Linked DNA regions of Homo sapiens: region 1 is linked to region 2. Evidence: fine-mapped expression QTL. Tissue or cell type: amygdala. Region 2 holds a variant in brackets; the other region holds the start of a gene. All regions are shown on one strand. Distances are between the middles of the regions.

Region 1 (8,000 bases), 340 kb after region 2:
TAAAACCAATAGGTGATTGTTCGGGGCCGACTGTGTGCGGGTGTACACGGTATTCGGCCCGGGTGTCATCCGCGGCGCTGGACTGTTTCATTTTGAGTTTGCAACTTGGGTTTTTCAGCGAGCTTTTTTTCTTCCTGAAAGCTAATGGCTTCCACAGCAATTAGACATTTTCCTCGCCCGCCCCTTCCCTCCCCTTTCTTTACATATAGGAGATGGGATACTCATTCCCGCTGCTATTGATAAGGTCGGAGGCGGCCGGGCCTCTCCCCAGCTTTCGCCCGCCCCAGCGCCCGCTCTCCCTCCGCCCTCCCTTGGCTTCCTTTTGATGTAGTGGGGAACGCGTCCTACTAAAAAAAAAAAAAAAAAAAAAAAAAAAAAGTAATCTGCCCGGTAACAATCAGCGCGCAGTAGCAGGAGCCCCAGAGCTATTGGCTATGCAAATAGAGGGAGGGGAGACGGCGCCCCAAACTCTTCCTCACCCTTTTAAAGCGATATCCCCTCCTTTCCCCCCCACCACCCCTTCCGCCCCACCCTCGTTTAAAGAGGCTGGCTCCGGGGCCTGAGTTAATCGCTTGCACCTCTAGTTTATTCGCTCCCCTCCTCCGCCTTGCAGGGAACCTAGTGTACGGCTCACCCAGCCCGCGCCCCACCCCGCCTTGCTGGCTCTCCGCGCCCCTGCCCGGGCCCCCTCTCTCGGTGAGGGAGGCACTCAGTCGGCCTCGGTGTGCCCAGAGAGCTCGAGCCACGCCATGCCCGCTGCACGTGCCAGCTTGGCCAGCACATCAGGGCGCTGGTCTCTCCCCTTCCTCCTGGAGTGAAATACACCAAAGGGCGCGGTGGGGGTGGGGGGTGACGGGAGGAAGGAGGTGAAGAAACGCCACCAGATCGTATCTCCTGTAAAGACAGCCTTGACTCAAGCATGCGTTAGAGCACGTGTCAGGGCCGACCGTGCTGGCGGCGACTTCACCGCAGTCGGCTCCCAGGGAGAAAGCCTGGCGAGTGAGGCGCGAAACCGGAGGGGTCGGCGAGGATGCGGGCGAAGGACCGAGCGTGGAGGCCTCATGCCTCCGGGGAAAGGAAGGGGTGGTGGTGTTTGCGCAGGGGGAGCGAGGGGGAGCCGGACCTAATCCCTCACTCGCCCCCTCCCCCTCCCGGGCCATTTCCTAGAAAGCTGCATCGGTGTGGCCACGCTCAGCGCAGACACCTCGGGCGGCTTGTCAGCAGATGCAGGGGCGAGGAAGCGGGTTTTTCCTGCGTGGCCGCTGGCCGCGGGGGAACCGCTGGGAGCCCTGCCCCCGGCCTGCGGCGGCCCTAGACGCTGCACCGCGTCGCCCCACGGCGCCCGAAGAGCCCCCAGAAACACGATGGTTTCTGCTCGAGGATCACATTCTATCCCTCCAGAGAAGCACCCCCCTTCCTTCCTAATACCCACCTCTCCCTCCCTCTTCTTCCTCTGCACACACTCTGCAGGGGGGGGCAGAAGGGACGTTGTTCTGGTCCCTTTAATCGGGGCTTTCGAAACAGCTTCGAAGTTATCAGGAACACAGACTTCAGGGACATGACCTTTATCTCTGGGTATGCGAGGTTGCTATTTTCTAAAATCACCCCCTCCCTTATTTTTCACTTAAGGGACCTATTTCTAAATTGTCTGAGGTCACCCCATCTTCAGATAATCTACCCTACATTCCTGGATCTTAAATACAAGGGCAGGAGGATTAGGATCCGTTTTGAAGAAGCCAAAGTTGGAGGGTCGTATTTTGGCGTGCTACACCTACAGAATGAGTGAAATTAGAGGGCAGAAATAGGAGTCGGTAGTTTTTTGTGGGTTGCCCTGTCCGGGGCCCCTGGCATGCAGGGCTGGATGGAGGGAGAGGGGTGGGGGGTGGCGGGGGACCGCGTTTGAAGTTGGGTCGGGCCAGCTGCTGTTCTCCTTAATAACGAGAGGGGAAAAGGAGGGAGGGAGGGAGAGATTGAAAGGAGGAGGGGAGGACCGGGAGGGGAGGAAAGGGGAGGAGGAACCAGAGCGGGGAGCGCGGGGAGAGGGAGGAGAGCTAACTGCCCAGCCAGCTTGCGTCACCGCTTCAGAGCGGAGAAGAGCGAGCAGGGGAGAGCGAGACCAGTTTTAAGGGGAGGACCGGTGCGAGTGAGGCAGCCCCGAGGCTCTGCTCGCCCACCACCCAATCCTCGCCTCCCTTCTGCTCCACCTTCTCTCTCTGCCCTCACCTCTCCCCCGAAAACCCCCTATTTAGCCAAAGGAAGGAGGTCAGGGGAACGCTCTCCCCTCCCCTTCCAAAAAACAAAAACAGAAAAACCTTTTTCCAGGCCGGGGAAAGCAGGAGGGAGAGGGGCCGCCGGGCTGGCCATGGAGCTGCTGTGCCACGAGGTGGACCCGGTCCGCAGGGCCGTGCGGGACCGCAACCTGCTCCGAGACGACCGCGTCCTGCAGAACCTGCTCACCATCGAGGAGCGCTACCTTCCGCAGTGCTCCTACTTCAAGTGCGTGCAGAAGGACATCCAACCCTACATGCGCAGAATGGTGGCCACCTGGATGCTGGAGGTAGGTCGGGGGGTGGCGCTCGCCAGGAGCCAGGACCCCTCCGGATGCTCGGGTCCCCGGCCGGAGCCCTAAACCTGGGAGAGGGCAATCCCCGCGCCGGCCTCCCGGCTCCTGTGCGGGAGTTTACCGCGCGCCTTCTGGCGAGACGCGTGGCTTTATTTCTGTTCCTCTCCAGATAAACTGGGGAGGCAGAGGGGGGAGGAAAATCTGGGAGAAGCGAGGCTGTCCTGGGCGGGGGTAGGGGAGCATCCCGCGCGCGTGTTCCTGCATGTGGCTGCCTCTTCTTCCCACCCCCCTCGCGACCTGTCTTTTGCGAAGCCGCCGCGGCTGCTTGCGCTGCGGCCAGGAAGAGAGTCGGGGCCTGAAATCGGGACCCCGAGTAGAAAGGCAACCCCCCCCAAAAGGCCAGAGCAAATTCGTCTTGGCCTCAGGTCCCCGCCTGTGGTCGCGACTCCGCGCTGGCACTTCACCGGGGAGGTGGAGGGAGGAGGGAGAAGGAGAGAAACGGGGAATTCGGGAGCCCCGGAAGTCCCATTGAAGAAACGCGTGTTTCAGGGGAACCCAAAAGAACCGCTTCTTGCCCCTCACTCCAAGTCTTTGCCCAGCGAGCCGTGTGCCCACGTATGCACAGCTCTGGACCTGCCGTGGTTTCGCCATGTTGCTTTGCAAACTCCCTTTGGAAAGGCTGGGAAACGTCGCCCGCTTACCCTCGCACCCCATTATCCCGGCCACCCCACTTCTAATCGTGCCCTCTCCCCCACCCCCCACCTCACGAAGATTACTTACAGTTTGGTTTTCCAGCTTCCTCGGTGCGGAGATTTGGGTGGGGTAGGAAGGGGGGGAGGGGGTGTGTGTAGGGGGGATACCGGGTCACCCCTGAAGGAGAGGTGGGAGCCCCCCGTGCCTCTTTCCAGGGCTCTCTGCTCCCGTCTTTCCCCTCGCTCGTCACCGCGTTCCCTAGTTTCTGTCCTTGTGGGCCGCAGCCGGACACTCCCGCCGCGGCGCTCACCCCTTCAAGTTTCCTCCCGGGATCCAAAGCCCCAGGGGTCGGAATACAGACCTTTCTGGCACCCGAAACCTCTGTTTCGGGAAGCCTGGCTCTTCTTTGGGGTTTTCACGCCAAAAGGGCTTTTCTAGGATATTTCCTCGATTTTTAATTATTTTTTGAAACCATCCCCCCCTGCTCCGACTCCAGCTGCCGAGGCTGCGGCGCTCTTCCTCCTCTCCTCCCTCCCCCTCTCTTCCCCACCTCTCCTCACCCGCCCCCCCAAAAGCGGCCCCTGGGCCGCAGGGACCCCCCCAGACATTTTTTCCAATTGTCGGGAATGATAGAGGAGGATCTGGGGATCCGGATGAGACCAAGAAGTGGACCCCCGGAGCCTCCAGAATATTTTTATTGATTTTTTGAAAAGATGACGAAATCCAAAAAAGAGTGAGTGAGTTAGAGTGCGCGAAGGAGTAGCCAAAGGGAGCGTCGCGGAGCTGCCGCGGCTGCTGCGCACTTCTCCGACTCCCCGTTTTGGAGCTGTAGTTCACCCCCTTTTATAGGATCCCTGGGAATACCAAAGCACTGATGGGCTATTCTGATTCACTCCAGTTTCCTCATCTTTGTTCTTTATTCTTATCACGCATTCTGGTCCCCTCCCCCTCCCACAAAAAAAAATTAATTTTTTTTGTTTCGATAGATTACGCTTTTTTATTCTTTTTCTCTTTTGCTGATGCTATGCTCTCCACCCCCGCCCCCCAACCCTTTCCCACTCCCATTATAGGTCTGTGAGGAACAGAAGTGCGAAGAAGAGGTCTTCCCTCTGGCCATGAATTACCTGGACCGTTTCTTGGCTGGGGTCCCGACTCCGAAGTCCCATCTGCAACTCCTGGGTGCTGTCTGCATGTTCCTGGCCTCCAAACTCAAAGAGACCAGCCCGCTGACCGCGGAGAAGCTGTGCATTTACACCGACAACTCCATCAAGCCTCAGGAGCTGCTGGTAATGACCGGCCCCTTCCTCCCTTCCTTTCTGCGATTCCCGCTTTCCCCTGGCCAACAATATGCCTTCTATCACCACTGCCAGAGCAAATTCTTGGGATCCAGAATGACCCCACCAATAGAATTTACCCACTTATGGGCGATAGCTCATTTAATAGGAAACCACTGTTTATTTTTTGTGTGTTCCTACTATGTGCCCAGGCTCCGTGCCCAGCACTGAGGCTACATCTGTGAATAAGATCCTCATGGAGATTTGGGTTGGTGAGACTCATTTGCAATTGTGTATGCATGTGTGTAGGGGACGCATGGAATATTTTAATTAACAGTGATAATATTTTAATTAAATTCCAAATTTCCAAAAATAGTCTGAGAACGTGTTCACATGATAGGTATGTGGCTGTGGTGTCTCCTAAAAACTTGGAGTTCAAAGGTAATGCCCTCTATATCTACAAAGTCTCAAGATACCAACACATAATAGCTGTTCACTAAATATCAGTTCATTGACTTTTGAGCAAAGTCAAAATGTGGCCTTTCACTGAAGGAGTCCGAGGCCTGGGTTCCTACCTCCAGTGGGACTGTGACCTCTGTACAACCCCAGGGATCCTGTCTTATCTCTGCTTTTCTACCAGGGAACCTTTTTCCCACCTGATCTAACTCCTTTTCCCTGCAGCTTGACATATAAGACGACCATATTGCAGCTGTACCGCATGGAATAGCGGCTCCAAGGCCCACCTTCGGTGGTTTGCACACCCCTCTTTGCACTGTTCAGAAAAGCACCCCCTCCTTCCCGCCCCTCCCCCTCCTCACTGGTAGGGCCCGCACAAAGTCCACAGGGCTGAGGCTGGCTTCTTGAACTGAGCTCTTTGTGAGGAGCCTTCCTTTCTGGGGCTCTGCTGCCATCTAGTGGAAGACATGCACAAGGTTGGGGGAGGAATTGCCGAGAATGTGGAGAGGGGCCTGAATGACTTCACCTTTGAACCGCTGCCAGGTTTTAGCTGCTTCTGGTTTGGTCCGAGAGGCCTAGAAAGGTGCTTTCTTCTGGGAGATCTGCTTCCTTTAATAACGGTGCAAGACCAGTGGTTCGTACTCGCATTACCCTGTGAAGAGGAAGGGCTGGCATTTCAAGCCATCTTTGAAGATGATGGTGGTTTAGTAGTTTATTGGGGTGCTTTACCCCGGCTGTACACAGAAAGCCAAGGCAGATTTTAAAGCTTATGAAGAAAACATTGTTAGAATTGGGAACCAATTTGTTTTTCTCATGAGAGAGCAGGAAAAATCATCTTCATATGGTTCATTTGTTTCGAGAGGATGGTGAATTGAGATGTTCTTCAGGACACCCAAATCTTTCCAGGACTAGCCAAGCAATATATTGCTACAAACAAACTTGGCTTTTTCCTATTCCCTTTATCCCAGAAGTTGGGATTTGGAAGAGTCCTATTTTACAAATGAGAAGGCTGAGGCCTGGGAGGGAAAGGGAATCACCCCCAGCCCCACAGCTGTGGGACTGGTGCTCTGGTTGCTGGTTTAGCAAATGAAAGAGATTCCAGGTTCTCCAGGTGAATGGGAGAGAGGGTGCATTGGCAAACAGGCCCTGCCTCTCATTCTTCTGATGACAGCTCAGTGGATAGGCATATTTTCTGGTAGCACATACGATATTTTTAATGTTTTATTTTGGACCGTTTCCCTTTGAGCACAGTTTCCCGTAAGTATCTCAGTGAAAGAGGGAAACAAGGTTCTTTTTCAGGTGGGTTGCTGGTGAGAGACCCAAGAGACAGGGTTGTGTGGTCCCCACACTTGCACTGAGGGATGCTGTGACACTGAGCAGGCACCCTCACCTTGCCCCAGATCACCTCCATCTGCAAAATGAGGTTGCTAATGACCATGTGGTCCTTTAGTCATGATGACAATGGCCTGTGAAACATTTAGGGGAAAGGGCTGAGTGTCACATCCCCAGAATTTCTGCCTGATATGTAAAAGGGGAGTTTGAGCAGCAGAGAGATAAAGGCACTTTTTGGCACTAAGTAAAAGCAAGCTAATTGGTTGCCAAGGAGTTGGGCCAAGGAACCTTATTTTGAGCTTTATCTGTGTGCATCATTTTTCCATGAAGATTAAAAAGACTATTAATTCGGTGATAGAGACATATACAATAAATTACCATGAAAGGGCCACAATGACCTTGGCCGTATCTCATTGTAGGTTCAGCTTTCTGGGTGGGCGGGAAGCAGTATTGCCTGCAAGTCAGGGTTGGGAGGGGGTAAGGGGAGCTGGAGTGGAAACGAAGTAGAAGAAAATAGAATCTTGGCAACAGCTACCTGGGCTCTCATTATTTTCAGTGGAGCCTGACATTTGAAGCATAAGAAGAGCTGTCAACAACTTCAAAGCTTCAGGGGCACATTGACAAATGGGCCCGCCTTACAATCTAGCAGCCACGTCCTAATGAGCGGCCTTAAAACTGGTCTGGAGCCCAACCCCCAGCCCCCTACACCAGGTCAGCCTGTGGAATTTAGATTCTCCTCTTCTCTTCCTGCCTTCCCCTCCAGGAGTGGGAACTGGTGGTGCTGGGGAAGTTGAAGTGGAACCTGGCAGCTGTCACTCCTCATGACTTCATTGAGCACATCTTGCGCAAGCTGCCCCAGCAGCGGGAGAAGCTGTCTCTGATCCGCAAGCATGCTCAGACCTTCATTGCTCTGTGTGCCACCGGTAAGATGAGGCTTGAGCCGGGGAGGGAGATGGGGGAGCTCTTTTGGGAGATGTCCGGGGAGAGGCAAAAGGCCGTAGGAACTTTCATTTTAGTTCAGGAGTTTGGAGGAGGGGTGGTCTTGAGTAGTCTAAAGTCTGAAGTTTCATTCCTGGGTTGCTTTTTCTTTATCTGAGCTTTATATATTCGCTTTCTCTGCTAAACTCATAAATGGTTTATGAGGACAGGTGTGGTTAAGGCAAAAAAAATTAGTGCCTGTTAAAATATTCTTTATGATGGCTAAAGTGCTCTTTGAAGATTACATATACTGCTCACTGGTTGTGTTCAAATCTTTAATCTTTTAAGGAAAAGGATGGCTTGGAGATAAGCCCAAGAGGAAATCTCGAGGGGGATGGGGGCAAATACAGGTTAAAGGAACAACGTCAAGATAAATATGCTGCCTGCCTTGATTAGTGGTAAGGGAGACCAAAGAAATTCTTTTTTTTTTTTTTTTACTGTAGGGCATTTATGGCCTTCTAGCTGTTTGCTTCTCTAGCTGTTTGCCCCACTGGGCGCGGGAGGGAACCTGGTTGGCTTTCGGTGAGGCTTTACTTTCTGAGCGCTGGGTTCTGATGCCCTCAGTTCATGTGGAGGTGTTTTGATTTTGGCCGCAGCCTTTAACGTTGCAATTCCGCCTACCACGTGGATCCCACAATTGATACATCATTCCTACTGGCCCATTTGTTTTGTAGTTTCCTAATAAACCAAAGGCAGTGGTTTGC
Region 2 (8,264 bases):
CAGGCCCCAGGGCACTTCCCACCATGAAGCCAGCCAGATAAGGCAGCCCTGATGTTTTTAAACAAGGCTACCCATGATAGTGCGGGCTCCACCTGCAGCTCTCAGGTCAGCAGAACTCCTTTCCCCAAAAGAGAGCCCCTCTCCCCCAGGCCCCTTTCTGCTTGCTGTGGAGTTACCTTGCAGAAGCCCAGGGTTCACTACAATGTTCTGGCATGTGCAGATGCCTTCCCAACTCTTACTACAACTTGGAGTTTGTCTTTCTGGTCTGTTTACTGCACCCCGCCCCCCCCACCCCCAGCCCACCCCTCACCCTTCCTGGCCTGCTTACCCGCCCACCACCCAAAGAAAAAAGCCTGGGCCTTGTCCAACAAGGCCCCCTGTCCCCTTTAACAAGCGAAGTGTGCTGGCATTGCAATTGGTGGTCTTCTCCCCTGAAGGTCGTTAATTAGTACAGAATGTAGACTTCAGTTGTCTTGCCAGCCCCGATGAAAACGCAGCTGGCAGGTAGCCGAGACAGAGGAATTTGTCATAGGTTAGATCAGCTCAAGCTCTAAGGACCAAGTGTACAGCTTATGCAAATAGTTTTGCTTAGCATGGATCCTGTGTTCTTATTCCCCCTCTCTCCCCCCAAGATTTTTTTTTTAACTGAAGGGTGGGGAGGGAGTGGGGGAACAAGGGAAGGAGGGAGAACAAGCACTTACTTGCCAGATCTCATTCTAAATCAGAAAGGAGCAAATTGCTTTCCCTAAAAAAGAAAAAGGCAGGGAAAAAAGAAGACAAAACACCCATCCTTTGGTCTAATGTACCGAGCATTTGAAAGCTGAATTGCTCAATAGGAAAGACTAGCAGTGAGTGTATTTGGAGAGACTATTATCCCCATCAAAACCCATTCACACTCTCTGGGAGGCCTGCAGAGCACCTGGGTGGGGACTTGGAACATTGGGGTTCTGTTCCTCTCCCTGCCCTGATGGTGTCACCTCCTCAATCCTGCCCTGGTTTTCCCAACTTTGGCAAACACTTAGTGCTAGCCTCAATTAGACAGAGCATCTGGGCACCCACGAATCCCAGAAGACAGAAGAGTTATGGTGGCTTCTCTCAGCATGTGCAGCACTAGCTTGGCATACTATAAAGACCTGTGACCTCAAAGTCCGGCGGGCCAAGCCAGTTATGAGCTGTGTGATTTGGGACACTTCTCTTAACCTCTGTGAGCTTCAGCTCCCTCATCTATAAAAACAGGGACAGCCATCTTTCCCTCATATTCCCTCAGTGGTTTACCTGGCACCTAGTAAGGGCTCAATTAATACTTGACGAGAATGAATGAAGCAAGATAACGAGGTAACAAGCATGCTGCCTGGTGGGCAGTAGATACTCAGGAAAGTGTTGGCATGCTGATTATGGTGATGAGACCGAAAAATAATCAAGAGAAAAGTTGGATTTCAAAGTTGTAAAATTGCACTGAAGGCATTGAGTTGGCTCAACATTGGTGGAAGTGAAGATGAGGGGTGGGGTGGGAGTAGGAGAAGAAAACCTCAGGGTTTGTCTAGGACAGGGATTTTTAATCTCAGAGTTATTGACATTTTGGACAGGATAATTCTTGGTTGTGGAGGGTTTTCCTGTGCCGTGTAAGATGGTTAGTAGCATCCTCTACCTGCTAGATGCCAGTCGTACCTTCCTCAGCTGTAACAACTAAAAATGTCTCCAGACATTTCCAAATGTTCCCTAGAGGGCAGAGTGTCCCCAATTGAGAATTACCACTGATCTAAGATAATTTCCTCCAGGAAAGCTGATGAGCGATCTGGTGAACTCCGTAGACTGTGGCTATGCGATACTTACATTTCAGCTGCTACCTAACACTGTGGCAGAAATAGCAATGACTTGCTTAAGGACTACTCTGAAGGTCAAAGGAGGATGTGAGCCAGACTGATGAAAAAGTTATTACAGACTTCAAGTTTCCAGACCGGTATGTAAGGGGTTTGGAAGTTGCCTCTCTGTCCTAATAAGTAAAAAGATGAACAAACTGAAAAAATCAATAATTCTCCTTAAAACTATCAGGCATGTGAAATCACAGGGTAAACTGCTGCCCCCAAAATTGGAGAGACAGACAGGTGAATACAGAGAGTTACAACCTAACTGGAGCCGGAACCTACTCACAGAAACCACTGCAGGAAGCAACGCCCGCCTTGGAAAACTGAACTGTAACTGACAAATTACTGCAGGCTCAGTGTGGACAAGTTTGAGAGTTAAACACTCCGGTGAGACCCAGTCATAGAGGGGTAACCACATTTTTGTGAGTTTTACTGCAGGAGCTCCACCAGGTTCTTACAGTGAGTATCAGAGGAAAGTCCCCTTGTATTCCTAGCAGGTAAAGAGCGAAAAGAACCATTCTGAAATACACCAGAGTACTCTGTCTCCCCTCAAGAGAAACTGTTCTAAAAGAGCCTAAAATGTTGGAGTTTTACCAGAACCTAGCTAAACTGGGGAAAGGGAAATATACCAAACTCCAGCCCCCAGAGTCATTCTGTCCCACCCAAGGGCAGGGTGTGGGGACTGAGATGCACTTGTGAGGTTCACAGCCCAGGGGCACAGGTTCACTAAGAGATTGAGACCTGCTCCAGAGGACTATAGAATGTTTACTCTCCTCTCATGCCTTGCCACCACACACTAACGGCCTATTTACAGCAGTTCCTTCTATCCAGTATGTCCAGCTATCAAGAAAATTACAAGACATATTAAAAGGCAAAAATCACAATTTGAAGAGACAGAAAAAGCATTAGAACCAGACTCAGATACAACAGGGATGTTGGAATTATCGAACTGGGAATTTAAAACAGCTATCATGATTAATGTGGTAAGAGCTCTAGTAAATCAAGTAGACAGCGTGTAAGGAAAAGATGAGCAGTGTAAGCAGAGATGGAAATTCTAAGAAAAAAGCAAAAAAAAGGTTAGAGTTAAAAAACACTAGAGATAAAAAAAAATTAGCTAGAGATGGCTGGGTGCAGTGGCTCACGCCTGTAATCCCAGCACTTTGGGAGGCCGAGGAGGGGGGATCACGAGGTCAGGAGATAGAGACCATCCTGGCTAACACGGTGAAACCCCATCTCTACTAAAAATACAAAAAATTAGCTGGGCATGGTTGTGGGCGCCTGTAGTCCCAGCTACTCGGAAGGCTGAGGCGGGGGAATGGCGTGAACCCGGAAGGCAGAGCTTGCAGTGAGCCAAGATCGCGCCACTGCACTCCAGCCTGGGTGACAGAGCGAGACTCCGTCTCAAAAAAATAAATAAATAAAATAAATAAGCTAGAGATTTGAAAAAAAAAAATGTCTTTGATGGGTTCATTAGTAGAATGGACACAGCTAAGGAACAAATTCCCTGAGCTTGAGAATATGTCAATAGAAACTTTCAAAATGAAAACACACACACAAAATAGACTGGGGAAAAAAAGAGAAAACTCCACAAATTGTGGGACGACTACAAAAGGTGTAACATTCATATAATGGGGATATCAGAAGTAAAAGAAAGAAATGAACAGAATAAATATTTGAAGCAACAATGACTGAACATTTCCACAAATTTGTGTTTGGTCAGACATTAAACCACAGATCCACAGATCTAAGAAGCTCAGAGAACACAAGCAGGATAAATACAAAAACAAAAAACCATAAAACAAAAACCAACTATATTTAGACATATTGTATTGAAACTGCAGAAAATTCAAAAGTAAGAAAAAGTCTTGAGAGAGGCCAGAGGAAAATGCACCTTATCTATAGAGGAACAAACATAAGAATTACCTCCAACTTCTCATCAGAAACTGAGCGAAGAAGAAGAATAAAACGGAATCAGGTAAAATGCTCAATTGAAACCACAAAAGGCAATGAATAGGAAACCAAAAGCACGGCAACAAGAGCGAAAATTGACAAGTGGGACTACAGCAAACCAAAACACTCCTGTCAGCAAAGAAAACAGTCACAGAATGAAAAGGGAACACAAAGAACAGGATAAAATATTTGCAAATTATATATATAGTAAGAGATTAATATTTTAAAAATATAAGACGTCTACAACTCTATACCCAAAAGAGAAAAAAATAAACAAAATAAACAACCTATTAAAACACAGGCAAAGGGCCGGGTGAGGTGGGCTCACGCCTGCAATCCCAGCACTTTGGGAGGCCGAGGGGGGCAGATCACGAGGTCAGGAGATC[A/G]AGACCATCCTGGCTAATACGGTGAAACCCCATCTCTATTAAAAGCACAAAAAAATTAGCCGGGCGTCGTGGTGGGTGCCTGTAGTCCCAGCTACTCGAGAGGCTGAGGTGGGAGAATGGTGTGTACCCAGGAGGCAGAGCTTGCAGTGAGCCGAGAGCACGCCACTGCACTCCAGCCTGGAGGACAGAGTGAGACTCCGTCTCAAAACAAACAAACAAACAAACAAACAAACAAACAAACAAACGAAAACATAGGCAGAGGACTTAATAGTCATTTCTCCAAAGAAGACATACAAATGGTCAACAGGTATATTAAAAGTTGTTTGACATCACTAATGACAAGGGAAATGCAAATCAAAACGACAATGAAATATCACCCACATCCATTAGGATGGCTACGATCAAAAAACCAGGAAAGAGTAAGCACTGATGAGGATATGGAGATGATGATTGAGGAGGATATTGGAACCCTTGCGCACTGTTGGTGAGAACTGAAAATCATGTAGCCGTTATGGAAAACAGTACTGAGGTTTCCTCAAAAAAAATCACAAATAGAATTACCATAAGATCTAGTGATCTCACATATAGATATTTATCACAAAGAACTGAAAGCAGAGTCTTGAGTAGATATTTGCATTCTGATGTGCATAGCAGCATAATTCACAACAGCCAAGGGGCGGGAACAATCTAAATGTCTATCAATGGATGAATAGATAAGCAAAATGTGATATGTACATGCAATGGAATATTATTAAGTCTTAAAAAAGAAGAAAATCCCATTATATGCTATAACATGTCTGAATCTTAAGGACATTATTTTAAGTGAAATAAGCCTGTGATGTAAGGACAAATCTTACATGATCCCACTTATATGAGTATCTAAAATAGTCAAACTCATAGAAGCAGAAAGTAGTATGGTGATTACCCAGAGTGGGCAGAGGGGACTGTCCAATGGGTAGGGAGTTGATGTCCAATGGGTATAGAGTTTCAGCCATACAAGTTGAAAAGTTCTAGCTGGCCGGGCGAGGTGGCTCACGCCTGTAATCCCAGCATTTTGGGAGGCCGAGGCGGGGGTATCACGAGGTCAGGAGATGAAGGCCATCTTGGCTAACACGGTGAAACCCCGTCTCTACTAAAAATACAAAAAAATTAGCCGGGCGTGGGGGCGGGCGCCTGTAGTCCCAGCTACTCGGGAGGCTGAGGCAGGAGAATGGCGTGAACCCTGGGAGGCGGAGCTTGCAGTGAGCCGAGATCAAAAGAATCACCTTTGAAAAAAATTGATAAGCTGGACTTTACTAAGATTAAAAAACTTCTGCTCTAAAAAGACACTTTTGAGAGAATCAAGACAAACCACAGAGTGGGAGAATATATCTTCAAAACACATAACTGATAAATGACTTGTATTCAAAATATGCAAAAAAAAAAAAAAAACCTCTTAAACGCAACAGTAAAAAAACCCAATTACTCAATTAAAAATAGACGGAAAATTTGAACAGATACCTCATCAAGGACGACATAGAGATGGCAAATAAGTATACGAAAAAATGCTCAACATCATTTGTCGCTAGAAAATTGCAAATGAAAGCAATAATGAGATATCACCACACACCGGCTTCAATCTGCAACATCCACAAATCTGACAATATAAATTGTTGATGAGGATGTGGAGTAACAGGAAGTTTCATTCATTGGTGGCGGAAATGCAAAGTGGTACAGGCACTTTTGAAGGCAGTTTAAGAAACTGCCAAACTGTCTTCAAAAGTGCCTGTACCATTTGTGCTGCTGGGTATTTATGCAACTGGATTTGAAATTTATGTCCACACAAAGTTGCACACAAATATTTACAACAGTTTGATTTATAACCACCAAAAACTGAAAGTACCAAGATGTCCTTTAATAAGTGAATGGATTAAACAAAATAGGCACATCCAAGCAGTGAAATACTCATCAGTGATTTAAAAAATGGAACAAAAAGTGGCAAAAATACATGGATGAAACTTAAATGCATATTGATAAATGAAAGAAGCCAGTCTTAAAAGGCAAAACTACAGCAATGGTTTTAAAAATCAGTGGCTGGCCGGGCACAGTGGCTCACATGTGTAATCCCAGCACTTTGGGACGCTGAGGCAGGTGGATCACAAGGTCAGGAGTTCGAGATCAGCCTGGGCAACATGGTGAAACCCCATCTCCACTAAAAATACAAAAATTAGCCGGGCATGGTGGCGGACGCCTGTAATCCCAGCTACCTGGGGGGCTGAGGCAGAGAATTGCCTGAACCCGGGAGGCAGAGGTTGCAATGAGCAGAGATTGTGGCACTGCACTCCAGCTTGGGCAACAGAGTAAAAAAAAAAAAAATCAGTGGCTGACAAGGGCTCATGAGACAAGAGGAAGGGTTGAATAGGTGAAGTACAAGAAATTTTTTAGTGAACCTATTCAGCATGATTCTGTAACGTTGGATACTATTTGTCAAAATTCAAAATTCATTGCACTTTTCAGCACAAAGAATGAATCTTAATGCATACAAATTTTAAAAAAATCATTTAAGAGGTTGAGAAACATCAGAATGGAATGATAAAGGTGATGAAGCAATCTAACTCTATCATAAATACATAAAACAACCTCACTGTGGGAGTTGGGAAAAGAGCTGACCTAAACAACTTTGGAAATGAATAGAATCTGTAAGACTACAGTCAAAAGAAATGATACATAAACACCGAACTCTCCCTGGTAGGTTGTTTCCCGTGGGGATATGAGTACACAGCCTGACACTACACTACCATACATGTATACTGGAAATGAACAATTAAGTAAATGGATGGTAGGTGGTGGTAGCCAGATTTTTACTACTGGACTAGGGAATTACAGGTTTGCTAGGGGAGGAGGCTAAAATTAACCATGTGGTAATGGTTTTGAATTGAAGACATTGGTATGAATTTACGTACATAGATGTTTACACATAGAAATACGTATAGACTTGTACACCCACAGGTTAGTGAACACACATACATTTCCTTGATATGCCAGCTGAAATGGCATAGAACCAATGGGTCTCCAATAGCAATGAGCACACCTAGCACCCAGATCTTGATTTCTAACACCATTCTTCAATTAAAAAACAAACAAACAAACAGACAAACAAAAACCCAGACTCCTTGAAGAAATATCTGATTCTAGGACTAGGTCAGAAAATTTACAAAATGAATCTGGAACATCTTGTATTGCCAGAAAGTAAGGAAGTACTGAAAAATTACAGTGAGTGAAGATTAAAGTTAGATAATATATGCAAAAGCAGCTTATAAAGCATTATCATTTATAAGAATTTGTGCTAGGACTCATAAATGGGTACTGCTGCAGCCTGGATTTGACTCTCGGTCAAGGAACCAGTTCTGTGGAGGCATAAATCCTTTAACACAGGAAAAAACAAACATCTATAAAAATTAGCTTGATACAACACAAGGAAATGATAAATGTTTGAGGTGATGAATATGCTAATTAACCTGATTTGATCATTACACATTTGTATACATATGTATCAAAATATCACTCTGTACCCCATAAATATGTACAATTATTATGTGTTAATTAAAAATAATAAAAGCCAAAAGGAGCTAAATCTGAAGAAGAAAACCGAGAACAAATGGGCCCTGAGTAAGCTTCATGAGTTTTAGTGCATGAGTAGTATGATGTTTATTTTGACTGCTCTGAAGCCTTCCTGTTCCTAGGCTGTTGAAGTTGTACAGTAAGTAATTCTGAGTAAGAGAAATGTCACTGTATTTAAAGAAGTACAAGTCCTCGTTTTCATGGGCAACTTACATACACAAATTATCCCAGTCCCAAGTGACACAGAGATGCATATCCACCCTCTTACATATGTATTTTTTAAATCTATCAAAGTTATGAAGCCTAGATTGTAAAAGTCCTAGAAGGCTACCTGGAAGTTTGAGGCAGTAAGAATCGTTGACAAATATCTAAGTGGAGCTTCTTACGTTCTAAACACCATGGCATTTTCTTTCTTGAAAAGGAAGTAAATTCACTGTCCTCAGTGTCCCCCCATCTAATCCAT

Evidence for each region. PIP is the estimated chance that this variant, and not a neighbour inherited with it, causes the effect.
Region 1: it holds the start of CCND2-AS1, and the variant in region 2 is fine-mapped to the expression of CCND2-AS1 in amygdala (GTEx, PIP above 0.99).

Annotation. Positions count from the first base shown.
Region 1 is chr12:4,271,679-4,279,678 of GRCh38, forward strand. CCND2-AS1 (CCND2 antisense RNA 1) reads right to left here and starts at 4,506. Exons shown (of 2, transcript NR_125790.1): 1 at 4,381-4,506. CCND2 (cyclin D2) reads left to right here and starts at 2,084. Exons shown (of 5, transcript NM_001759.4): 1 at 2,084-2,557; 2 at 4,327-4,542; 3 at 7,082-7,241. The coding sequence starts at 2,363. RefSeq lists silencers at 199-390, 375-494, 1,275-1,394, 1,925-2,014, 7,153-7,345.
Region 2 is chr12:3,931,409-3,939,672 of GRCh38, forward strand. All of the region lies in intron 2 of LOC105369608 (a long non-coding RNA gene), which reads right to left. Among named protein-coding and RNA genes, the nearest start is that of PARP11, 62 kb to the left of the region's middle. The variant A/G (reference allele first, on the strand shown) is at 4,202.